Regions from separate parts of the Homo sapiens genome. Here regions 1 and 3 are each linked to region 2. The links come from fine-mapping of genetic effects on gene expression. A gene starts in region 2. Each other region holds a variant in brackets. All regions are shown on one strand. Distances are between the middles of the regions. Region 1 overlaps RFX1 (regulatory factor X1). Region 2 holds the start of DCAF15 (DDB1 and CUL4 associated factor 15). Region 3 overlaps RFX1 (regulatory factor X1).

Region 1 (8,000 bases), 25 kb before region 2:
CAAGAGGTGCCAGGCCAAGGCGGGCAGTGGCTCGGTCCAGGGGTACCGGCCAGGCAGCCTCTGCAGCCCCCCACGGCTGTGCCTCTGGCCTATTAGAGCCCAGCCCATGTGGGTCCAGCCCCAGCCTGCCACCCTGGCCTTTGATAAGCATCTCTGCCTGTCTCCAGACTCAGCATCCTGGGGCTAGAGGATGGGGGAGCCGCGGGGAGGACGAAATTTGAACCTCCTGGAAGGAGACTGGGGCGTAGTGGGCCATGGGAACCGCTTGGAGAAGCCACCTGAGCCTCTTTGGGCCCATTTGCCTGAAGGAAGCCCCGAGGCCACATCCTGGCTCCTTCTGGGGAGGATTTCAGGGAGGGGACCCAGCCCCCAAATCCACACCCAGCCTCTGCAGGAGGCAGAGCCCTGAGCCGGCGCAGGTTAAGATGCTGGGGCTGCGCACCATCTGGTTGTTACCACTGAAGTTGAGGGGGTTCCAAGCCCCTTGAAAAAACAGATGAAATCCATAGACCCTTCCCCAAGTGTAAACAGAAACCCTGTCCCAGAGGTTTCACAGATACTCCCCCGCCTGGCACTAGAGCCCCCCCGAACCTCCAGACCTAGGTCCAGGCCCCAGCTCCTCCACTCAGCACCCTCCTCCGCCAGCCTCCGTCCCTGGCTCTGCGCCCCTAGGATAATCCCCGCATGCCCGCCACAGCACAGAACAGGGCACACAGTTGACATTGGGGGGTGTGGGGACGAAAGATAACCCAAGGCCTTGCCTGCGGGTTCTTGGCACAGCTTCAGGGGCCCGTAGGGAGAGGGGGCGGAGAGCAGAGACCCCGAAGTTAGTCCCAGGTTCAACTCAGCCCTGCTGCTTCCTGGGAGCCTCACTTTATCAGTAATGGATCCAGCACCCTCCTTGCTTGGCTGGAGAATGGTGGCCTCTTGCTTATGGGTCTGCTGTGAGCTTTACAGAAGCTCACCTGTGCAGGGGCTGGGTAGGTTGACGGCCATCGTTGCCATGGTCATCTTATTGTTGCCTTTCCCCTCCCAGAGATCTGTGGTCCAGGCCACTCCACAAGCGCCCAAACCCGGCCCGGTGCAGCCGCTGACCGTGCAGGGCCTCCAGCCAGTCCACGTGGCTCAAGAGGTGTGTGTCTCCCCCTCCTACCCCACGGGCAAAGGGGCTGGTCCCGGGCTGGGGCTGGGGAGTGCAGGCCCCTGAGGCCGCAGGGAGGGAAATGCCTCTGTGAGCTGCAGACACTGCCCTACATCCTTCCCCTTTCCCGGCCCCCTGGCAGCTCAGGGTCCAGGTTTTGCTAAGAGAGATCTGGATTCAAACCCCTCTTCTTTCTTGCGTGGCCCTGGGTCAGTTCTAACCCCTCTCCGAGACCCCGGGCGGCGGGGATCTTCCCTCGGGTGGCTGCGTGCGCGCTCAGCAACCCGGTGGGTGGAGGCCTGGAGCCCCGCCCGCGGCCGCCCCCGTTGACCCCCCAGTGTCTCTGTTTGTCCTCCAGAGCTCAGGCAGTCAGTTTCCCGCTAGGAAGGCAGAGCAGCGAGATCCCCGGCCCACGCCGCCGCCGGAGCCGCCGCCCCGGCCGCCCGCGTGCAGCGGCGAGGCCCCGCAGCTAGGCAGCCCCGAGCCGCCGCCGCCCCATTACGAGCCGGGCGCCGAGCAGTGGGTGGAGCTGGTGGGCGTGCTGCCCCCACACCTGCTCCTGCCGCAGCAGAAAGTGGTCTTCGAGCCACTGTCCCGGCTCCCGGCCCGAGCCAGCCCCGACCAGAGGGTCAGGATCCAGAGAATCCCCCAGGTGCTAGTGTTCGGCACGGCCGCCACGGCCCTCAAAGTAGGTGGCGGACGCACGGGCGGGGGGCAGCGGGCGGGCGGGGGCGGGGGCGCCCAGTCTGGGCCGCCCACCAGGCCCCGCAAGCCCTGTAGACCCCACCTCCGCCCGACGGGTCGGTCTAGGGACCCGCCTCTGACTCCCCACCCAAGCCCCGTCCAGGTCCCAGCTCCGCCCCTGCAGACAAGGGTGGGGGATGGAGGTGGGGGACTCAGGCCCCGCCCCTAAGGCCCTGTCAGTGATTCCAGGTTCTGTCCCACCAACCGGGGCCCCAGGCTCCGCCCCTCACATCCTGTGCCCGGTTTCCAGGCCCCACCCCTGAGGCCCTTTCTGTAGCTCCATGGCTCCAGCGATAGCCTTGCCCCTGTGCCTGGGGTCCAACCTTCACGCCCACTACAGGACCCTGTCTCGGGTCCCCTCCACTGTCCGTCAGGCCCCACCCTTGCTGGCCCCAGCCGAAGCCGAGAGTCCTGGCTTCTCCTGACACAGCTCTTCCTGATTCCCAGCCCTGGCCTCCTCCAGGGTGTTTTGTTGAGAGTCCAGAAGCCACCCTTGGGTCCGGGAGCTGGGCGTCAGGGATAGCCTGGGTGGGCACCAGCCCTTTAGAGGGAGAACCGTAGGAGCTGGCCCACCCCTGACCCTCCACGTGCCCTTCCTCTGCCCCAGGTGCAGCAGCTCCAGCAGGTGCCCGTCCCACACGTGTACTCCAGCCAGGTGCAGTATGTGGAGGGCGGCGATGCCAGCTACACGGCCAGTGCCATGTAAGTGAAGGGAGAGGGGTGGGTGAGGGAGTCAGGTCTGCACTGGAGCCTCCCCAGTCTCCCAGGACACCAGTCCCCAGTCCCAGCCCCCAGCAGGCCATCCGGCCTTCAAGGCCTCAGGTGACAGACACACAGGTGGGCACTCCCCAGGGGCAGCCACAGCCACGAAAAGTGGCGAAGCAGAGGGACCCTTGAAGGTTGGGAAAGGCACCCCGGCATAGCTTAGGGCTTGGGAGTCAAATGAGCCTGGTTTTTAACCAAAAAAAAAAAAAAAAGGCCAGGCACGGTGGCTCACGCCTGTAATCCCAGCACTTTGGGAGGCCTAAGCGGGCAGATCACTTGAGGTCAGGAGTTCAAGACTAGCCTGGCCAACATGGTGAAACCCTGTCTCTACTAAAAATACAAAAGTTAGCCAGGAGTGGTGGCAGGCACCTGTAATTCCAGCTACTCGGGAGGCTGAGGCAGAAGAATTGATTGAACCCAGGAGGCGGAGGTTGCAGTGAGCTGAGATCGTGCCACTGTACTCTAGCCTGGGCAATAGAGTGACACTCCATCTCAAAAAAAAAAAATCATTTGACTCTCAACCCTGTCCCAGAGAGGATGCTGTGACCTGTTTCTTTGTTTCTTTCCAGAGATACTCTAAGAACAGAAACTCTAGCCCTCTATCCATTTTTTTCTTTTTTTTTGTTTTTTTTTTTGAGATGGAGTCTTGCTCTATCGCCAGGCTGGAGTGCAGTGGTGTGATCTCGGCTCACTGCAACCTCTGCCTCCTGTGTTCAAGTGATTCTCGTGTCTCAGCCTCCCGGGTAGCTGGGATTACAGGCACACACCACCACACCCAGCTAATTTTTGTGTTGTTAGTAGAGATGGGGTATCACCATGTTGGTCAGGCTGGTCTTCAATTCCTGACCTCGTGATCCACCCGTCTCAGCCTCCCAAAGTGCTGGGATTACAGGCATGAGCCACCGCACTGGACTTTTTTTTTCTGTTTTTTTTGAGACAGGGTCTCACTCTGTCGCCCAGGCCAGAGAGCAGTGGCGCGATCAGGGCTCACTGCAGCTCACGGGCTCAAGCAATCCTCTTACCTCAGCCTCCCTAGTAGCTGGGACTACAGGTGTGCACCACCATGCTCAGCTAATTTTTGTATTTTTGTAGAGATGGGGTTTTGCCACGTTGCCCAGGCTCATCTCCTCGAACTCTTGGACTTAAATGATCCTCCCGTCTTGGCCTCCGAAAGTGCTGGGATTACAGGCATGAGCCACAGTGCCCAGCCTCTACCCGCTTTCTGTGGTCAGAAATAGACGCAGGACATTCCATCCATACCTTATTTCTTTCCTGGCTCTTCT[A/C]CCATGTGTCCTCGTGGGTCCTGGTCACCCTCTTAGCTGCTGTGTAATAACCCCTGTGCAGATGCAGCAGCCACGATGTCATCAGTCCCCACCCAGTGATGCATAGGGGGCTTCTTCCCCTCCCTGGGTACAGCACTACCATTCCTGTGTATGGGCCGTGTCAGGCAGGGGCCACGTCCTGGCCCCGCTTCAGTCCCGGCTCGGGCTCCTCGCCGGGGGTCCTCCATGCCACCTTCCCTCTCCCATCTCCACAGAAATTGCTGCAGTACTAGAGTTACTGTTGGTTTAGTTTCCAGAGGTTTCACTTGGTTTTCTTTGCATTTGCATGATTTCTTTTTTCATCCCTGCCACTTGTTCTTCTGGGGACAATGCTGGGATTGGTTAGCTCATGGATCGACTTAGTCCTAGGGTCATGATGCTCTGACCGACCCCAGTGGGCCTGGTCCAGGCATCTAAATCGTGAGGCTTGGTCCCCGGCGTCCGGCTACCTCACAGTTCCATTTGTTTCTTTCCAGTGCTGCTAATCTTTTCACTGTGTGGTTGAGCCAAGCTGGCAGGGGCCAGACAGGGCATTGCAAAGAGGAACACGGTGTCCAAGGGTTCCTGCTGCCATCCCTGGTAGCGTCTCTCCTGTCTCTCCTTTGCTTCTGTCTGAATTCCTCTCTCAGTGATCATAGTGTGTGTGATTGCACCTAGTTCATCGTTGCTATCGGGTTTTTCTGCTACGAGAAGTTGTTGGGGGCCACTCCTGCTGTCAGCTGCCCACCCCTTCTGTCTCTCCCTCTGAGTGAATTACTGCGAGTTCCCGACCCTTTGCCAGCCCTATCCCCACCCTGGCCAAAGCCACAGCCCCTGGGCCTCCATCCCTGGTCCTGTTCTGGGGGGCATCCAGAGCTGCACACATTCATTTATTCAGTCATTCAGCAACCATCTACCAAAGCAACCTTTTTGCAGCACACATTGCATGCTGGGTGTGCAGGAGTGAGCAGGCTGTGGCCCCCGCCTTGGAGAAGTAGGGGCTCTTGCTCAGGTCATGTGCTCTTGGTGTCACTTTGTGTGGTAGACATAGGGCAGGACAGAGAGATCGAGAGCTGGACCTGATGTGTGACAAAGACCATGCTTCCATATCTCCTTCCACTGTCCCCCTCAACTCCCTCTCTTTGTTCACCCACAACCACTCGGGCCTGTGCGGCTCCCTCCCCTGCCACCTTCAGAGTCTGAGCCAGGCCACCTCTTGACTGACCACACTGTCTTTCTGGATGTTTAATTTTTTTTTTTTTTTTTGAGATAGAGTTTCCCTCTTGTTGCACAGCTGGAGTGCAATGGTGCAATCTTGGCTCACTGCAACCTCCACCTTCAGGGTGGTTCTCCTGCGATTCTCCTGCCTCAGTCTCCCGAGTAGTTGGGATTACAGGCGCCCACCACCACACCCGGCTAACTTTTTGTATTTTCAGTAGAGAGAGGGTTTCATCATGTTGGCCAGGCTGGTCTTGAACTCCTGACCTCAGGTGATCCACCCGCCTTGGCCTCCCAGAGTGCTGGGGTTACAGGTGTGAGCCACCGTGCCTGCCCCTGCCCCCCTCCCTTTTTTTTTTTTTTTTTGAGGTGGAGTTTCACTCTGTCACCCAGGCTGGAGTGCAGTGGCATGATCTCAGCTCACTACAGCCTCCACCTCCCAGGTTCAAGTGATCCTCCTGCCCCAGCCTCCTGAGTAGCTGGGACTACAGGCGCCTGCCACCATGCCTGGCTAATTTTTGTATTTTTAGTAGAGACGGTTTCACTATGTTGGCCAGGCTGGTCTCGAACTCCTGACCTCAAGTGATCCACCCGCCTCGTCCTCCCAAAGTGCTGGGATTACAGGTGTGATTACACTGCACCTGGCCTAATGCTATGTTTTTAATCACTAGTACATTGAAAGAGTTCAAAGATCAAAACTATGTCCAACGATGTTTAGCGAGATGGTGAGAGGTGCCCCCTGCCTGTCCCCCTCGACGGAGCCCTCCATGCCCACAGATGACAGACACGCATGCCACATGCAACGCATTCTTCCCTATTGTTCGGTCACACGGTCCCCACTCTTCTCTGCCTCTTATCTGCCCGGTGTTAGGTTCTGGAGCTTGTTCTTTCGGGGGACGACAAGCCTTGCCTCCTTCTCTTTCACCCCTGCATAGGATTCCATCATCTTTTGTTTAACAGCCCCTTGAGGTTGAACCCCTGGTGGTTTTTATACTTGTATACTTGTGACGATTTGCAGCCTCAAGCCTGTGTCACCGGTGCCCATCCCGTCACGCGATATCTGAAGGAGAGAGGCTTCCCCAGCCTGGGATAGGTAGCTTGGCTCAGGGGAAACATATCTGCATTCCTGATGGTCTTCTCCAATCACAGCGTCGCCTTCTCTAGTCCCTTCCAATCACAGCATCGCCTTCTCTAGCCCCACCCCCTTCCTGCTTCACTCACTGCCTGATCACCTTCTGTTATGATCTCTCATTTACCTTTGCACGTGGCTTCTTGCCTGTCTCCCCAACTAGACGGTTCCGGGGGCCGGGGCTTTTCATTCTTGTCCATTGCTGTGTCCAAAGTGTGTGAAACAGTGCCTAGCACACAGTAGGCACTCGAAGTACTTGCCAATTTTATTTTTTTAATGAAGTGTGTAGCATTCCAAGTTCCCTAACCCTTCGGTATTTTTTTTTTTTTTTAATTAAAAAGACAGGGTCGGCCAGGTGTGGTGGCTCATGCCTGTAATCCCAGGACTGTGGGAGACTGAGGCGGGTGGATCACTTGAGGTCAGAAGTTCGAGACCAGCCTGGCCAACATGGTGGAACACCAACTGTACTAAAAAAATACAAAAATTAACCTGGTGTGGTGGTGAGCCCTGTATTCCCAGCTCCTTGGGAGGCTGAGGCAGGAGGATAGCTTGAACCCAGGAGGCGGAGGTTGCAGTGAGCCAAGATTGCGACACTGCACTCTAGCCTGGGTGACAGAGCAAGACTCTGTCTCAATAAGTAAATAAATAAATAAAATAACAAAAATAAAAAGCCAGAGTCTCACTGTCACCTAGGCTTTGCTGCAGTGGTAGTATGGTTATAGCTCACTACAACCTTGAACTCCTGGACTCAAGGGATCTTCCTGCCTCAGCCTCCCAAGTAGCTGGGATTGCAGGTGTGCACCAGCATGCCTGGCTAATCTTCATATTTTTTGTAGAGATGGGTTTTCACTATGTGGCCCAGGCTAGTCTTGAACTCCTGGCCTTCAACGATCCTCCTGCCTCTGCTTCCCAAAGTGCTGGAATTACAGGCAGGAGCCACCATGCCCAGCTGATGATTATATGAAATACTGCCCATCAAGCACTCAGGATGGTACCCAGTCCGTTGTAGATGAATGCTAGGATCTGCTCCTTGCTGCAGGGGAGCTGCTGCTTCCCCAGTCCCCTCCTAGGACCCCCCTTCCTGCACAGTCATGCCCCTCGGCCCCCCAGTTCTCATCCCCCTGACTCTCCCTTGGCTTTGCCTCTTTCCCAGCCGTTCCAGCACCTACTCCTATCCCGAGACGCCGCTGTACACGCAGACGGCAAGCACCAGCTACTACGAGGCCGCAGGCACGGCCACCCAGGTCAGCACCCCCGCCACCTCCCAGGCGGTGGCCAGCAGTGGCTCCATGCCCATGTACGTGTCCGGCAGCCAGGTCGTCGCCAGCTCCACCAGCACTGGGGCTGGGGCCAGCAACAGCAGCGGAGGTGGTGGCAGTGGTGGTGGCGGCGGCGGCGGGGGAGGCGGTGGCGGGGGTGGCAGTGGCAGCACCGGAGGCGGCGGCAGCGGAGCAGGCACCTACGTGATCCAAGGCGGCTACATGCTGGGCAGTGCCAGCCAGTCTTACTCTCACACCACCCGTGCCTCGCCAGCCACGGTAAGTGCCCCAACGCGGGCCCCAGAGGAGGCAGGCAGTGGTGGGTGGTGGGCACTAGAAGCCCAGTCCATGACGGTGGTTACCAACCACCGCTAGCAGGAGCCTGTGTGGCCCCCAATGAAGAGAACATATGCAGATGTCCTGGGATTGAATGCTGTGTGGCC
Region 2 (10,026 bases):
GCCCCCTCGGCCCCCTCACCTGGGTGGGCTCGGCTGGCATCCTGGCAAGCAGCACAGCGGCCTGGCGGTGGCACGGCCACGGTGCTGACGTAGATGTCACGGTGGTTCTCGTCACTCATCATCATCATGTTCATGAGCATCCCGTTGGCCGAGCGGGTGCTGGGGGCCAGCATACCCTCAGCTGCCTGGTCGGCGCCTGGGGGGCCCCCACTGCACACCCCCTGCCCCAACCAGCCAAGGCTCCCCCAGGCGCCTGGTCTCACTTGAAGCCGAAGACGATGACCTTGGAGGCGTCGCTGGGCCACTCGCATACGGTCAGGTACAGGTCGCTGTAGATCTCCTCGTCCTGGAATAGCCGAACCTGCCGGACCTGTGAGGCACGTTCAGGGGCAGCACCGGGTCAGGGAAACTGCGGAGGTCCCCCGAAGCTGTACGATGCAGTCCCTCATCAGGGCTGGGGCTGAGCGGGTAGGAGCACCCCAACAGCACCCGCCACACCCCTCCACCTTGCCTGAGGACAGCCGTGGAGGCTCCTTTCACCAGTCGGGGAGACCAGGCCAGGGTGGGATGCAGCCGATGGGAACAATGTCCCGGGGGAGACTGCGCCAGGCACTGGTTCCAAGCCCAGCCTACCCTGAAGCCCGTTCAGCTCTCTGAGTTCACATGTATGCTGAGGTAACAGCACACCTCCTGGGGGGGTTCCAGGAGTCAAGGGTCAAGGCTAAAGCCAGGGTGGCCTGGTCCTAATAAAGCTAACTGGCCTGAGCCAACATGTTCTACAGCTTCATAGGGTGTGTTGAACCAAATGGAATTGCTGCTATTTACCCATTTTGAACCATAAAAATGGTAATTTCTTTTTCTTTTTTGAGACAGAGTCTTGCTCTGTAGACTGGAGTGCAGTGGTTCGATCTCGGCTCACTGCAACCTCCACCTCGCAGGTTCTAAGCGATTCTCCTGCCTCAGCCTCCGGAATAGCTGGGATTACAGACATGTGCCACCATGCCCGGCTAATTTTGTATTTTTAGTAGAGATGGGGTTTCACCATGTTGGCCAGGCTGGTCTTGAACTCCTGACCTCAGGTGATCCACCCACCTCGGGCTCCCAAAGTGCTGGGATTACAGGCGTGAGCCACTGTGGCCAGCCTTCATTTGTTTTGTTTTGTTTTGTTTTGTTTTAGAGACAGGGTCTCACTCTGTTGCCCAGGCTGGAGTGCAATGGTGTGATCATGGCTCACTGCAGCCTCAAACTCTTGGGCTCAGGTGATCCTCCTGCCTCAGCCTCCAGAGGAGCTGACTACAGGCACACGCCAATATGCCCAGCTAATTTTTTTTTATTTTTAGTAGAGACAGGGTTTTGCCATGTTGCCCAGCCTGGTCTTGAACTACTCGGACCAAGTGATCCTCCCGCCTTGGCCTCCCAAAGTGCTGGGATTACAGGTGTGAGCTACCATGCCAGGCCCTGGTAATTTCATATGGTTGGATCTAACACATGGAATCTTGATGATGACCCCAGGAGTACATGATGATCATTTTACACCCAAGGAACCTGAGGCTCAGAGGTTGCTGTGACCTGCTGAACCACACCATCTGAAGGGCCAGCCTGGTGTTGAAGCCTCCCTACCAGCTTGAGCTTGCTGTGAACGTTGAACTCCCACCAGTACAGATGGTAGATGTAGAAGGAGAAGTCGTCATCCCCACTGCTGCTGGTGTAGGAGAGGACGTAGCGGCCGCATTTGGAAAAGCCCAGGAAGATATGTCTGTGGGGGTGGAGGGGGCACAGCGGCCAGGTCAGGGCGAGCCCACCACTCCCGCCCACCTGCCCCCTTTGCCTGGGCCCAGCCTCACCCTGCATAGAGGAAGTCCTCATCCACAATGTTCTTGAGGGACACGCACACCCGGGGAGGCAGCTTCCGGAAGAGGCGAGGGGAGAGCTGTCCGCTGATCTGGGGAAGGGGTGGCCAGGGCACTTCAGGCACCATCTGCAGCCCCCAGCCCCCTCACCCACGGCAGAGAGGCAGAGCGGCTCTCACCGGGTCCAGACCGGCCCAGCCCACCATAATGGTCAAAAGAAGGCCAAGCTCTGGAAGGTGGGAACAACTGAGGCAGATGGGGACAGTAAAGCCAGATGGACCGCGCTTGAGCCTTCATCTCCACCAGGGACCCAGGCCACCTTCCCAGTTCCATACCTCTTCAGCCTCAGGTCCCTCTTGACTGAGCCCAGCGTCACCGCCCCCAAGAAAGTTCCCCAATCACCCTGTCCCACGCTGGGCCACCTGCTTCCCTCCCTGAAGGCTGTCCCTAAGCTGTGGGTATTTATCCTACTAAGGAGGCTGGGACAGAGTCCTGACCTGCACCCATCTGTTCCCAACCCACCAGCCTTCAAACAAGGGGGCTCCTCCTCCCCGGGGCAGCTCTGGCCTCTGCTGGGGGCCAGTCGAGGCAGATAGAAGGGTGAGCCTAACCAATGACCCAACGCCCCCTTCCCAATTAACTACCGCCTTCCAACGGAATCCAAGGGAATCCCTCATCCCCAAAACTTCACCGCGGAAGGATCTGCGGGGACTGACAGGCAGAAGCCAGGCACAGGGATATCCGAACAGCCTCAGTCTTGCTACCCAACTCTGCCTTCAAGACATTCCAATCTGATGGGAAGAGTCCTGTCTGGGAAGCTCCCTGTCTGATGGGAGACAGCCCTGTCCACATGGAGGTCTCAGTCTGACGGAGGAAACAGCCTGGCCAGCCAGGCCCAGGCCGACAGGGGAGACACAGTCCCTGCCCAAGGAGCTTCCAAGCTAAGGGCGGAACCACAGCCAAGCCCAGGGAGCTCCCAGGCTAAGGGCGGAGACTGTCCCAGCCCAGGGAGCTCCCAGTCAAAAGGGGGAGACACAGCACTGCCCTTACAAAGCTACCAGCCTCACGGAGAAGGCGCAGTCCCTGTCCACAGAGACACAGCCTTGCCCCAGTTACTGCCCACCTGCAAGAGATCCACATTTCTGCCCTCCAGAGCTCCCAAACTGATGGGGGAGAGAGACATCATCCCCCAGCTCTGGGAGTTTCCAGTCTGATGGAGGAGACAGAGCCTGCTTCGGTAACTCTCACTCTGCGGGGGAAGACTCAGCCCTATCCAGGGAGCTCCCACACTTTCAATGGGGAGGCCCACCCAGGTACTGGAACTCCCAGCTCATGTGTGGTCGGGGCTTGGGCAGGGAGAGGAACATCAGGCGGAGGAAGCCCAAAGCCAGCGGCAGGGGCTCTGCAAAGGGGGCGGGAAGGTTCCATTATGGAGCAACCATGGGAGCAGAGCTTTGAAAAGCCTGGATCGCCCCCTTCCTCCTGATTCTCCCTGCGGCCTCTGGGGTCGCCTCCCTCCGAGCCCCCTCCCTGGGGCCCCGCCCCCAACCCCCTCCATCCCAGCCCCTTTGCCGGTCACCCGACACAACCACCTGCATCCAGGCCCCCAACTGAGCCCCCTCCATCCAAGCCATCTCCCCCGGGCCCCGCCCAGGCCCTGCATCCGAGCCCCCTCCCCTGGGGCCCCGCCCCCAACCCCTCACCCCGCGAACGCCCTCCTCCCTCCGCCTCCCTCGTCCCTACTCCCCACCCTCCGGCGCGCTCCCCACTCCGGCTCCAGGCCTCACCTTGACCCGCTCCAGCTGCTTGAGGACGTGCTCCCGCCGCCGCCCTGCTGCCCGCTTCCCTCCGGCTCCCCCGGGGCCGCCGCCGCCGCTCCCAGCCCCGCTGTTCCGCTCCGATTTCGAGCTGGGCGCCATTTTCACCCCCTCCCTCCACTTCCGGAGCAACCGGCCCCTTCGCCCCACCCCTGCCGCCTCCTCATTGGTCCTTTTTCGGGACAGCGGCCCGCCGGTTGGGCGAAAGCCCGCACTCGCGCTATGCCTGTCCATCAAAGCCATCTCGACTCTTGATTGGTAGCGACAGTAACAGCCCCCGCGGCCCGTTGCCGTATTCCCGCCCCGCCTTAAGGACGTACCACTCGGAGGTCCCGTTTGTTCGCCCTGCCCAGATAACTTTGATCTGATAGGTGAATATCTCTGTCTGTCTCAACGGCGTCACGCCCCCTGTGGCTGGCGGGTTTCCATGGAGACCACAGGCGGTCCAGGCCCTTGGGCGGGGCGACGGGAGCCTGTGGTCCACCAAGGCTCGAGAATCCTCAGCCCCGGGCTGCCCGCGCCCGGTCCAGGTGGGCAAAGGCCTGACGAGCATACTTGGGCGGCAGAGCCAGGCCGAGGAAAGAGATTTACAAAAAAGGAAAAAACGATGGGATTCGATGAAAGCTTGTTTCCGATGGGCGGGTTGGTGGGATGATGGTGGTGATAATGATAGCATCAATCATGGATCGCTCCACATGTGACAGACACGGTTCTGAGCTTAAACAGTTCGATGTGGCAGGGCCCTGTTGTGCCAATTATGCAGATCATAGCAATAAAAATAATTGTTGAAGGTCCGCTCCGTGCATCATATTCGTATACATTACCTCATTTATTTTATTTTTTTAGACAGAGTCTCACTTTGTCACCCAGGCTGGAGTGCAGTGGCGTGATCACGGTTCACTGCAGCCTCGACCCCGGGCTCAGATGATCCTCTCACCTCAGCCTCTCATGTAGCTAGGACTACAGGCGTGCGCCACCACGCCTGCCTAATTTTTTGTATTTTTAGTAGAGACGAGGTTTCACTATGTTGGCCAGGCTGGTTGCGAACTCCTGACCTCAGGTGATCCGCCCGCCTAGGCCTCCCAAAGTGCTGGAATTACGGGCATAAGCCACCGCGCCCGGCCTAATTTTTTGTATTTTTTGTAGGGACGGAGTTTCACCAAGTTGTCCAGGCTGGTCTCCAACACCTGGGCTCAAGTGATCCTCCCACCTCTGCTTCCCAAAGTGTTGGGAGGACAGGTGTGAGCCCCCACCCCTGGCCAGCCCATTTAATCCTCTGAACAATCTAGAAGATAGTTTTTTTTTATTGTCTTCATTAAAAAAATTTTTTTTGTAGAGATGGGGTCTCACTATGTTGCCCAGGCTGCTCGAAAACTCCTGACCTCAAGGGATCATCCCGTCTTGGCCTCCCAAAGTGCTGGGATTACAGGCATAAACCACTGTGCCCAGCTGATTTCAAGGGTTTTAGGAGTTATGTACTAGAAAACCTAAGACCAAAATATGGTTTTTTAAAAATATATCACAACACAATATCACAACATATCTTTTTTTTTTTTTTTTTTTTTGAGATGGAGTTTTGCTCTTGTTGCCCAGGCTGGAGTGCAATGGCACAATCTCAACTCACTGCACCCTTCACCTCCCGGGTTCAAGCAAACGATTCTCCTGCCTCAGCCTCCCAAGTAGCTGGGATTACAGGCATGTGCCACCATGCCCGGCTAATCTTTGTATTTTTAGTAGAGACAGGGTTTCACTATGTTGGCTAGGCTGGTCTCAAACTCCTGACCTCAAGTGATCCACCCACCTCACCCTCCCAAAGTGCTGAGATTACAGGCGTGAGCCACTGCGCCCGGCCATCACAATGTATCTTTAGCCAAAGGTTCCCCTGCTTCTTGCATACCCTACGTCCATGGAGAGCAAAGCTGTCTCCAAGACAGTGGGGACACCTGGCAGCTACTGCCTTAACCAAGTGATCAAAATCAACATCACCAGTGATAAGTCATACTGACATCACGGACCCCAGCTATGTGATAGGGAGGACATTTGTAACTGTCTGATATTATCCCCAAACCTAGAACCTCAATCTAACCATTAGACAACATCAGACATTTATCCCAGATTGAAGAAGGTTCTCAAAATACATGACCAGGCCAGGTGCGGTGGCTCATGCCTGTAAGCCCAGCACTTTGGGAAGCAGAGGAGGGAGGATCACTTGAACCCACGAGATCAAGACCAGCCTGGGCAACATGGCGAAACCCTCATCTCTACAAAACATCAAAGAAATTCACTGACTCTACTGGCACACGCCTATAGTTTCAGCCACTCGGGAGGCTGAGGCAGAAAGATTACTTGAGCCCAGGAGGTCAAGGCTGCAGGGAGCTATGATGGTGCCACTGCACTCCAGCCTGGGAGACAGAGCGAGACCTTGTCTCAAATAAAAAACAAAACAAGGCCAGGCATGGTGGATCACGACTGTAATCCCAGCACTTTGGGAGGCTGAGGTGGGCAGATCACAAGGTCATGAGACTGAGACCATCCTGGCTAACACAGTGAAACCCCGTCTCTACTAAAAATACAGAAAATTAGCCGGGCCTGTAATCTCAGGTGGCACACGCCTGTAGTCCAGCTTCTCGGGAGGCTGAGGCAGGAGAATCACTTGAACCTGGGAGGTGGAGGTTTCAGTGAGTCGAGATCACGCCACTGCACTGCAGCCTGGGTGACAGAGCAAGACTCTCAAAAAAAAAATAAATAAATAATTTAGCGGAGTGTGGTGGCGTGAACCTACAGTCCCAGCTACGTAAGAGGCTGAGGTGGGAGGATCACCCGAGCCCTGGAGGCTACAGTGAGCGGAGATTGAGCCACTGCGCTCCAGCCTGGGCGACAGAGTGAGATCCTGTCTCAAAACAAAACCCAAAACCCAAAACCCAAAAAACATTAGAGGAAATTGAGTGAAGGGAATAAAAGAACTCTCTGTACCTTCTTTGCAGATCTGAAAATGTCTAATTTCAGGCTGGGCACAGTGGCTCACACCTGTAATCCCAGCATTTTGGGAGGCTGAGACAGGAAGATGGCTTGAGAAGAATTTGACCAGCCTCGGCAACTGTTAAGACCTCGTCTCTACAATGAAAAAACATTTTTTTTTCATTAGTCTGGTGTGTGGTAGCACGTCTGTAGTCCTATGTACGTGGGAGGCTGAGTCGGGAGGATCCCTTGTGCCCAGGAGTTTGAAATTACAGTGAGCTGTGATGGCGTCACTACATTCCAGCCTGGGTGACAGAGCAAGACCCTGTCTTTAATAATAATAATAATAAAATTACAAATAACAAAAATAAAATAATGTTGTTTCAAAATTCAAAGGGGCCAGGCACGGTGGCTCACATCTGTAATCCCAACACTTGGGGAGGCCAAGGCGGGCGGATCACTTGAGGACAGGGGTTCAAGACAAGCCTGGTCAACATGGTGAAATGCTGTCTCTACTAAAAATACAAAAATTAGCTGGGCTTGATGGTGGGCTCCTATGATCCCAGCTACTCAGGAGGCTGAGGCATGAGAATCGCTTGAACCCGGGAGGCAGAGGTTTCAGTGACACAGAGCGTGACTCTGTGTCAATAAATAAACACATAAATAAACTCTAAGTTTTTAAAAGAGCATGGGGGAGGATTTTTTTTTTTTTTTCTGAGACAGAGTCTCACTCTGTCACCCAGGCTGGAGGACTGTGGCACCATCTTGGCTCACTGCAACCTCCTCCCAGGTTCAAGTGATTCTCCTGCCTCAGCCTCCCAAGTAGCTGGGACTACAGGCGCCTGCCACCATGCCTGGCTTTTTTTTTTTTTTTTTTTTTTTGTAGAGGCAGGGTTTCACCATGTTAGCCAGGACGGTCAGGATGGTCTTGATCTCCTGACCTCGTGATCCTCCCACCTTGGCTTCCCAAAGCGCTGGGATTACAGGCGTGAGCCACCACACCCGGCCAGGAGGATGTTATTATGACTGCTATGTGCAGAATGGTCTTGGGGGATGAGGATGGGGGCAGGAATAGTCTTGGGGGAGCCAGGAGGGTAGGTGATGCTGACTTAGATTAATCTACTAGCATTGAAAATGGAGAATACGGCCGGGCATGGTGGCTCACACCTGTAATCCCAGTACTTTGGGAGGCTGAGGCAGGTGGATCAGGAGGTCAGGAGATCGAGACCATCCTGGCTAAACATGGTGAAACCCCGTCTCTACTAAAAATACAAAAAAAAAAAAAAAAATTAGCCGGGCGTGGTGGCGGGCGCCTGTAGTCCCAGCTACTCAGGAGGCTGAGGCAGGAGAATGGCATGAACCTGGGAGGCAGAGAGCTTGCAGTGAGCCGAGATTGCGCCACTGCACTCCAACCTGGGCGACTGATCAAGACTCCGTCTCAAAAAAAAAAAAAGAAAAGAAAAGAAAAGAAAATGGAGAATATTGGCCGTGGTGGCTCACGCCTGTAATCTCAGTGCTTTGGAAGACCAAGGCAGGAGATGGCTTGAGTGGGAGGATTGCTTAAAGTCTCCCTTGATCCCCGGAGACCAACCTGGGCAACATAGTGAGATCCCATCTCTATAAAAATTTTAGAAATTAGCATGAGGGCCTGAGCCTGTACTCCCAGCTACTTGGGAGGCTGAGGTGAGAGGATCGCTTGAGCCCAGGAGTTCAAGGCTGCAAGTGAGCCATGATCGCACCACTGCACTTCAGCCTGGGCAACAGAATGAGACGCTGTCTCAGAAATAATAATAAAAATAAAGAAAGAAAATGGAGAAAAGTGGCCATAGTCAGAGCCGATGGGGTCATTTTCAAGGACAAGATATTGGGATAGGGGCAAGGAGAGAGAAGTTAATGATGACTTTAGCATCTGAGTGGAATATTTAGCAAAATGTTAGTGCCATTTTTTGATATGAGGAAGACTAGGGAGAAGTCAGTTTGGCCCAAGTCAGTTGAATACGTACATGGGACAAACAGACTGTTTTTCCTTCTATATCACATCACTCTCAATCCTTCGCTTCTGACACCAGATGATGGGGCAGCTTCTCCCAAATCAAGTAATTCCCCAATTCTTGGTGGACACCAACATGATGTCCTGCAATTTACCTCAATTCTTTTTTTTTTCTTTTTTTTTTTGAGGTGGAGTTTTGCTCTTGTCACCCAGGCTGGAGTGCAATGGTGCGATCTCAGCTCACTGCAACCTCCGTCTCCCGGGTTCAAGTGATTCTCCTGCGTCAGCCTCCCAAATAGCTGGCATTACAGGCATGCACCACCAGGCCCAGCTAATTTTTGTATTTTCAGTAGAGACGGGGTTTCGCCATGTTGACCAGGCTGGTCTTGAGCTCCTGGCCTCAGGTGATCCACCTGCCTTGGCCTCCTAAAGTGCTGGGATTACAGGCATGAGCCACCATGGCCAGCCTTTTTTTTTTTTTTTTTTTTTTTTTTTTCTGAGATGGAGTCTTGCTCTTTCACCCAGGCTAGAGTGCAGTGGTGCAATCTTGGCTCACTGAAACCTCCGCCTACAACAATTATTATAAAGGTGTTTTTATGGTGTTTTTTTTTTGTTTTTTTGTGTTTTTTTTTTTTTGAGACAGGCTGGAGTGCAGTGGTGTGATCATAGCTCACTGTAGCCTCGACCTCCCAGCCTCACGCAATTCTCCCACCTCAGCCTCCCGAGTAGCTGGGACTACAAGTGCGTACCACCACGGCCAGCTAATTTTTGTGTTTTTAGTAGAGAAGGGGTTTCACCATGTTAGCCAGGATGGTCTTGATCTCCTGACCTCGTGATCCGCCCACCTCGGCCTCCCAAAGTGCTGGAATTACAGGCGTGAGCCACTGCACCTAGCCAAGATTTCCCATATTTCTGATCGTTCGTCACTTGGACTCTCCCTTAATACGTATATGTATTTGTTTACAAATAACCCAACTATACAGGTGCATTTAGACCACTCTTTCTAGCCTGTGAATTAAATCATACCTGGAAAAGGGCCATAAAACAGGATGGGGCAGGTAAATAGAACTAGAAATTATGATTCATTTCCCACACCCAACTTTGGAGACCAGTGGCTTTGAACACAGAAAGCCTTGGGCTCAATTTTCCTTGTGGTCCTAACTCCTCATTGCTTCCTTTTTACAGGTCATCCCACTTTTATGCAGTAGTGATAGAAACTCAATTTTTTTTTTTTTCCAAGACAGAGTTTTGCTCTGTCACCCAGGCTGGAGTGTAATGGCTCGATCTTGGCTCACTGCAACCTCTGCCTCCCAGGTTCAAGCAATTCTCCTGCCTCAGCCTCCCAAGTAAGCTGGGATTACGGGTACCCACCACCACGTCTGGCTAATTTTTGTATTTTTAGTAGAGACGG
Region 3 (8,000 bases), 35 kb before region 2:
CTAATCTTTTAATTTTTTTGTAGAGACAGAGTCTCACTATGTTGCCCAGGCTGGTCTTGAACTCCTGGCCTCAAACAATTCTCCCACTTCAGCCTCCCAAAGTGCTGGAATTACAAGTGTGAGCCACCGCGCCCAGCCAAGCCCCCATTTTCTCCAGGAACCTCCAGCTGCTGGACCCCCTGCAGCTGGCCCCCTTTTTCCCAAAGATCCCCTCTTGTGAGGCCTCCAGGAGCCCACACTGCCCTGGTCTCCGCCCACCGCCCGCAGCCCCTCCGTGGTCCTCTCTGCTGCTTCTCCCCATCTCCCTGACCTTGTCAGCAAAGGACGGGGAGCCCCAGACTCAGACCTGGGAACCTCTCTTAGCTCCTGTAGTTCTCCCTTAACGATGGCCTCATCCTGTGTCCCAGCTCTCATTACCCACACTGAGGTCTCCAGCCTGGGCTGCAACCCTGAACCGCAGGACCCCACATCCAGCCCCTCCTGACTCATCCACTTGGTGTTGAATTTGATGCAGGCCAGTGCAGCCACATTGAATTCTGCATTTTTCCCTCTTCAAATCTCTCCTTCAAGGCTTTCTCATCCTCCCAGGCCCACGGTCAGTCTTGTTTCTGTCCTACTCCTCCTTGAGTAAGACCTCTCGGCTCCACCTCCTAAACTCTTCCAGAACCCCCCCCGCCTCTTCCACTTCTATGACCCCAATCCTGGTCGAGCCTCCGCCCTCACAGTCTGACCCCTCCCAGCAGCCAGAGGGAGCAGGTTCACAACTGTCCATTAGGTCCCGTCACATCCTAGCTCAACCCTGATGGCTCCAAGCCAGGTGGTTCCATGGGCACTCTTTGAGAAACCCCAGCCTAGGCTTTCTCAGCTCTGGGAGAGCAGGCTCCTTCCCCTCCCCCGATACCTGACAAAAAAGGACTTTAAAAGCTACACACACAGACACACACTCTCTTTCTCTCTGTCTGTCTGTCTGTCTGTCTGTCTGTCTCTCTCTCTCTCTCTCTAAGCTGGGTGTGGTGGTGGGCGCCGTAATCCCAGCTACTTGGGAGGCTGAGGCAGGAGAATCGCTTGAACCCAGGAGGTGGAGGTTGCAGTGAGCCAAGACTGCACCATTGCACTCCAGCCTGGGCAACAAGAGTGAAACTCCGTCTCAAAAACAAAAAAACAAAAACAAAATGCAAAAATGCTCCACACACCCTGTGCCCCTACTAGCAAATGTCAAGCCCCTTCAACTCTGGCCTGCCAGCCTCCCAGCCTCGCCCACTTCCACCCATCCCCTCACATACCTGGTCCAGCCCCTCTTGCCTTCCTACAGCTCCACAAACCCGCCAGGCTCAGTCCTGCCTCCTGACCTTTGCACTCTCGGTACCCTCTGCCAGGAGCACTCCCTGCCCCAGACCCTCTGGGAGCTTGCCTCTTGTCTCCCTTAGGTCGCTGCTCAGACACTACCTTTCTGACTCCACACCTCCCTGCCCCTACCCCCATTGCTCACTCTCTGTCTTCTTGTTTGTTTGTTTTTGAGACAAAGTCTCGCTGTGTCACCCAGGCCGGATGCAGTGGTGCGATCTCAGTTCACTGCAACCTCTGCCTCCTGGGTTCAAGCGATTCTCCTGCCTCAGCCTCCCGAGTAGCTGGGATTACAGGGGCGCACCACCACACCAGGGTAATTTTTGTATTTTTTGGTAGAGATGGCGTTTTGCCATGTTGGCCAGGCTGGTCTCAAACTTCTTACCTCAAGTAATCTGCCTGCCTCGGCCTCCCAAAGTGCTGGGATTATAGGTGTGAGCCACTGCGCCCCGCTGGTCTTCTTAACACTTAACACTACTTGAAGTTACAATAATGGGATGGTGGGGGTGCCCACCTGCAGGCAGGGCTCTGTCAGTGCTCAGTCTCTGTGGAATGACTGAGGAGCACCAGCCTGACCCAGAACAGCCTAGAGGAGCACCTAGCACAGCCATCATGTCCCATCAGCTCCTGCATGGCTGACTGTTTGCAGGAGGCCTCGCATGTCACCAGTGGATGGCTCTGCTTGGCGCCCAGAGTGTCTGATGGGTCCTGATCCACGCCCTGGGTGTGGGTCTTACCTGCTTCAGGGTCCAGGCTCCCTAGAGCCAGGGTCTGGAGTGGGCACACAGCTCCAGGCTCCACCACTCCCCAAGTCCTTCCACTCTTGACCTTGGCTTCTCCAGCTCTTCCCGCACTCCCTCAGGGGGGCCCTGGTGCTTCAAAGTCAAGACCAAGTCCCCGCACTTTGGGAGGCTGAGGCAGGCGGATCACCTGAGGTCAGGAGTTCAAGACCAGCCTGGCCAACATGATGAAACCCCGTCTCTAATAAAAATACAAAAATTAGCCCGGCGTGTTGGCGTGTGCCTGTAGCACCAGCTACTGGGGAGGCTGGGGCAGGAGAATCGCTCGAACCTGGGAGGTGGAGGTTGCAGTGAGTCGAGATCATGTCATTGCGCTCCAGCCTGAGTAACAGAGCAAGACTCTGTCTCAAAAAAAAAAAAAAAAAAAAGAGCAAGAAGTCAAGAGCAAGTCAAGAGCAAGGCATGGTCTTTGGGTCAGACAGAGCTAGGCCGGACTCTAAGTAGCTGTTAGGCATGGGGAGGTGGCCTCTGTCTCCCCCATCTTGGTAGTGTTCCCAGGAGGGTACTCTGTACCCATGAGGGCAGGCTGTAGCAACCCTGCTGTCCACAGAACTCTCTGGGGCTCACTTTGGTCAGGCGGTAGCTTAGTCGCCTTTCACAGTGGTCCCAGGGAATTTCATTTCCCTGCCACTCCACATTCTGGCAGGTGCCAGCCTGTCCCCAGAAGGGTCACTGGGCAATGCTTCCTGGATTTGTTCTGAGGAAGAGGAGGTTGGCTTGTGCCCTGCCAGCTGTCCCCTCCCCCACCCCTTGCAGTAACTCCCCAGCCTTCCTCCCTGACCCTCTGCCAGGTTAGCGTCCTTCCTCATCTAAGGGTGGCCGGGGCCACGTGAGCGCCGGGGAAGCAGGAGTAACTGACACCAGTGAAGGCTGCCACAAGGCACCTAGGACTTCTCCCAAGCCAGGAGCAATCGGAGCTGACCAGGGACCCAGGGAGGTGGCAGGGAAGAGGAAGGGAGGGGCCTGGACCCAGACTTGGAGCCTGGGGCTGGACACCAGCCGACACCAAACCAGACACAGCTCACCCAGCCCCGGTCCCTGCCTGCCCTGCCTAAAGGTGACTTTGGAGGTGGTAGGAAGGAAGATCAAGTTTCCCTGGTCAGGAACAATACTAGATCCATAAATCCCTGTCCTCAGAGGCCATCAGACTCTCCCAGAACCCAAGGCGGAAGGAGAGTGCTGTGGGCTCTGGCAGCCACTCCTGGGAAGGTGAAACCGAGCCGGCCTGCAGGGAACAGGGGCCGCCCCGAAGGAGGGGCCGAGTCCGGCCCTTCTTCCCTGCTTCTCTCTCACTTGGAGTTCTAGGGGGGCCAAGAAGACTTGTGTCCAGACAGAGAAGTGGAGTGTGTTTGTCAGCATTCCCAAGCACAGATGGGGAAACTGAGGTTGGAGCAGACAAGGGATAGAGGACACTGGGGGCAGCAGGGGCCCCTCCAGGAGCCCCTGACTGACATCATCCCAGGGAGCCCAGGGGCAGGAGGCAGAGGGTCAGGTGGCCCCATCTGTCTATGGGGAAGGGGGCCAGGCCCCCAGGGTGGATGCCAGGAGTCCAGCCTCTAGGGCCTCCCCTGGGCTCCCCCAAGTAGCTCATTTAAGGTTTGAGTAGGTCTAGATGGGGAAGTGCGGGGCCCGGGGAGGATGGGTGCCCACTTGTCAGAGTCATTCCACTGCTCAGAGATGTTAATGTGTCAGATTCAGAGACAGGAAATCGGCCGCCGTTTCCTGAGACAGTGGGGGCCTCCCTGGCCTCCTGC[G/A]CATGCCCAGAGTGGCGATCTCCGGCAGATAGATGCAGACGCTCGCTCGCAGACTCAGTGCCACCCCCCACTTCCCCTCCTGGCTTCTCCTCCCTGAAACACAGCGAGGGCCAGACCCAGTGGTGGAGGGGCCCTGCCCCGGCCGCAGGCAGACAGGGATGGCTGCACAGGAAGCCCTCATCCGCATGAGTCACTCAGGCTCACCTGTTAGCCTCGTGGCGCATCCCCTGGCGCCCTCCTGGGCTGGCAGGCGGGGTCCCAGCCTTGAGGGCTACCCCAGAGGCAGGAGACGGGCAAGGCTGCTTCCTGGAGACAGCCACCTGGTCTCAGCAGGTCCCCAGGCCTCCTCCTGCTGTAGGTCCTGCTCAGCGACCAGCCCCTGAGCCCTGGAGAGGGTGGGGGGCCAGCCCCCCACTCCCTGCCCACCTTGAGCTTCCTGGGTGAGACACCATCCCTTAGGCTGGGCCTGAGTCCTTGGACCCCACGGACCCAGGTGTGCAGTGCCGGTCACATGACTCGGGGCTGTCTCGGGTTTCTCCCAGGAGGGGCCCTCTCAGCAAGGGCCTCCTCCCTTATGGCTCAGGGCTGGGAAGCCTAAAGCAGATGCCAGGGAAGATTCCAGCAAAACACAGGGATTAGGGCCTGTGGAATTGGCTGCACAGGTAGCTGGTCAGGCAGGCATGGGATTGACCAAATGCCCCACAGCCCACATGCGGCTACGCGGAGGCCTCCCCCAACACCTCCCACATCTGGCAACCCCCGCCCCCAACACACACTCCTGCGCTCTGCCCTTGACTTGGCCTTTGCATCTGCCCTGAATAGCCCTCCTGCCCTGTCCAGGCCCCTCTCCCTCCTGTGCCCTGCCTGGACAGCCGAGACCCAGTCTGGATACTTCAGACTTTGAGGGGTCCCCGTAGACCCCCAGCTTACTTTCCTTCCTGTGCCCATATACCCAAGTTCACACATCACTGCCCTTGGGGCGCAGCCCAGGCAGAACCAGTGACTCCGGTTCCATATGTGGTATGAGGTTCGTGTGGGCCCAGAGGGGAACCTGCGTCATGGCCTGCACGGTGGATGGTGCATTTGACCTTGGACAGATCACTTCCTTGCTTCTGGTCTCTGTTGCCTTGTCTGAAAATGGGTAATAAAAGCTCTTACTGTCAGCCAGGTGCAGTGGCTCATGCCTGTAATCCCAGCACTTTGAGAGACCGAGGCGGGCGGATCACTTGAAGCCAGGAGTTCAAGAGCAGCCTGGCCAACATGGCAAAACCCCGTCTCTACTAAAACCACAAAAATTAGCTGGGCGTGGTGGCGGGTGCCTGCAGTCCTAGCTACTCAGTGGGTTGAGGCAGGAGAATCACTTGAACCGGGAGGCGGAGATTTCAGTGAGCAGAGATTGCGCCACTGCACTCCAGCCTGGGCAACTGTGAGACCCTGTCTCAAAAAAAAAAAAAAATCCCGGAAAGCTCTTACTGTCAGCCAGGCACAGTGGCTCACGCCGGTAATTCCGGCACTTCGGGAGATGGAAGCAGGTGGATTGCTTGAGTCCAAGAGTTCGAGACCAGCCTGGGCAATATAGCAAGACCCCAGTCCCTATTAAAAATACAAAAATTAGCCGGACATGGTGGTGCATGCGTGTAGTCCCAGCTACTTGGGAGGCTGAGGCAGGATAATTGCTTGAACCCCAGGGGACAGAGGTTGCAGTGAGCCAAGATCGTGCTACTGCACTCCAGCCTGGGTGACAGAGCGAAACCCTGTCTCAAAAAAACAAAAAAGCTCTATCTCTGGCTGTCCAGAGTCTAACATAACACCTAGTGTGCCAGAAGCAACACTAGTGTCTGCAGTGATAACTCCTTGCCCGTGGCCCTTCAGTCCTGCCGGGGGTCGGATAAACCCCTCTAAATCCCCAAGAAAGGTGGGCCTGGGACCTTGGCTCCTTGATGGTGGAGGAAGGGCAGGTACATGTCCACCCCCAGCCCCACCTCGGCCTCTGGAGCTGCTGGGGGTATGCCAGGTCACATGGAGGGGATGGGATGGATGGTGTCCCAGCTGGGGTGAGGGTCTTCTAGCCAGCGCCTCTTGGGAACACTCGCCTCTACCCCCAGCACCCCTGCTAATCACTCAGCAAGATGTGCATGAAATTTGACCTGTGCCTGCCTGATAGCATCTCCGGGTACCAACCTCCCTCCTCACCCCGCAGCGCTGCCCCAGCCCCGCGAAGGCCCCGCTTTGCTGGGGAGGGGAGTGTTTTTCCAAGAGGGCAGGCAGGCTCTCTGCATCCACCGGGGGGATTAGCGCCCCAAGGTCGTGGGTATAAAGCCACCTGCACACCCTGCTGTTCTATAGAGGCAGGCAAGGAGCAAAGAGGGCCAGGCAGGCCCCCCTGGACGGACAGGCGGACGGGGTGGGGGGCGGGTGGGGTGGGGGAGGGGATGAGCACCATGTTCTATGATTGTCTCTTCTCAGCTGCCTGTCAGCGTGAGTACCTGCCTCCCCCACTCCAAGCCCCTTGTGGTCCCCACCCCACTGAGGACAGAGGGGCAGGGAGGGAGGACTTGGCCACAGGCTAGCAAGACCTTCCAGGGACCACTCCTCCGAGCAGCTTCCACTCCCGGGAAGCCAGGGTCACCCCAGAGAAGGTGGCCCCAGCACCTCGATCCTTCCAGCGCTGCCAGGACCCTGGAGTGGACAGTCAGTTCCCTGCCTGTCCACAAGTCCCGTCTGCTGGGAAGGGTCCAGCCTTCTGGGTTTTGAGCATCATAGCTCTTCAGTCACCCTATCTGGTCTGACTTCAGGATGAGGAAAGCTGATGAGGGCTGCTGCCAGGTATTAAGGATCCTGGGTCCTGCAAGCCTCAGCCCGCTCTGCCACGTGGGCCCCTGATGGGTGCAGTCAGGGCTGGCCAGGGGGAAGCAGGACTCTTGGAGGGGCCTGACCTTGCTGGGGGTTGGCTTCAGGCTGCATCTTCCCCTCCAGGGGGGCTCAGGCTTAGGCTGGGGGCAGGGAAAGCAGGAAGAACTGACCTGGTGGCCCCTCCCCACAGAAGGTGCCATGCGGGCCAGCGAGACAGTGTCGGAGGCCAGCCCCGGCTCCACCGCCAGCCAGACCGGCGTTCCTACTCAGGTGGTTCAGCAGGTGCAGGGCACCCAGCAGGTAGGATGTGGCCCTCCCAGGGGGTGGGGGAGGGCCCGGGAGGGGGGCAGTGCAGGCTGCGTCCTCGGGGGCCTCACCTCCCCTCCCCGCTTCCTGCTGGAGCCATCTGCTCACCTGTTCTTATCAAGATGTGCACAGCAGCCGCCCGCCACCCAACCACGCCAGGCCTCCCTGGGGGAAGTGGCAGCTCAGCTCCTCCTGCCTTGTCTCCACAGCGGCTGCTGGTCCAGACGAGCGTGCAGGCCAAGCCAGGCCACGTGTCGCCCCTCCAGCTGACCAACATCCAAGTGCCCCAGCAGGTAATGCTGCTGCACCTGGCCACCACCCTGGAAGGCTCCCTCAGGGTGGAGGACCAACCCCCTGTGGCAAGCCTGGATCTGTCCTCACCAGGATGGAGGGAAGAGTCCCCATCCAGGGGCTGCCCTACCTCCTGGCTCTGGGCAGTCACCTCCCCAGGGTGAGACTATCCGGCAGGGGCCATCAGGGACAGAGGAGCTGCAGGAGCCATCTCAGCAGAGAGAACAAGATGTATAGTTGGGAAGGTGGTTTGCGGGTCCAACCCAGTGTCCCGAAGCAGAGAACCCAAGGCCAGGTTTAGAGTCAGGAGTCCACAGCCAGCACAGGGTGGTCTGTCCCCCAGAAGGCTGCGCATGAGGTGCCGCGCACACCCGTTTCCGACTGATCAGCGCAGATCTGGACAAAGTACTGTTGGGTTTTACAATGGCTCGATCTCGGCTCACTGCAACCTCCGCCTCCCAGGGTCAAGTGATTCTCCTGCCTCAGCCTCCTGAGTAGCTGAGACTACAGGTGTGCACCACCACACCTGGCTAATTTTTGTATTATTAGTAGAAACAAGATTTCACCATGTCGGCCAGGCTGGTCTCGAACTCCTGACCTCAGGTGATCTGCCCGCCTCAGTCTCCCAAAGTGCTGGGATTACAGGTGTGAG

What was found. PIP is the estimated chance that this variant, and not a neighbour inherited with it, causes the effect.
Region 1: its variant is fine-mapped to the expression of DCAF15 in tibial artery (GTEx, PIP 0.94). The same link has a PIP of 0.9 or more in atrial appendage.
Region 3: its variant is fine-mapped to the expression of DCAF15 in whole blood (TOPMed, PIP above 0.99).

What each region holds. Positions count from the first base shown.
Region 1 is chr19:13,972,579-13,980,578 of GRCh38, reverse strand. RFX1 (regulatory factor X1) reads left to right here. Exons shown (of 21, transcript NM_002918.5): 6 at 1-6; 7 at 1,037-1,132; 8 at 2,493-2,587; 9 at 7,452-7,836. Among named protein-coding and RNA genes, the nearest start is that of DCAF15, 24 kb to the right of the region's middle. RefSeq lists enhancers at 1-25, 26-552, 553-1,079. The variant A/C (reference allele first, on the strand shown) is at 3,934.
Region 2 is chr19:13,946,256-13,956,281 of GRCh38, reverse strand. It overlaps DCAF15 (DDB1 and CUL4 associated factor 15), which reads right to left and starts at 3,773. Exons shown (of 13, transcript NM_138353.4): 1 at 3,638-3,773; 2 at 1,845-1,942; 3 at 1,621-1,756; 4 at 264-370; 5 at 20-159. The coding sequence starts at 3,769. It also overlaps a transcript of PODNL1 not described here. RefSeq lists a silencer at 3,551-3,690 and an enhancer at 4,351-4,400.
Region 3 is chr19:13,982,537-13,990,536 of GRCh38, reverse strand. RFX1 (regulatory factor X1) reads left to right here. Exons shown (of 21, transcript NM_002918.5): 3 at 6,942-7,051; 4 at 7,267-7,350. Among named protein-coding and RNA genes, the nearest start is that of RFX1, 20 kb to the left of the region's middle. RefSeq lists enhancers at 2,623-3,513, 4,329-4,378, 4,405-5,296, 7,055-7,581. The variant G/A (reference allele first, on the strand shown) is at 3,899.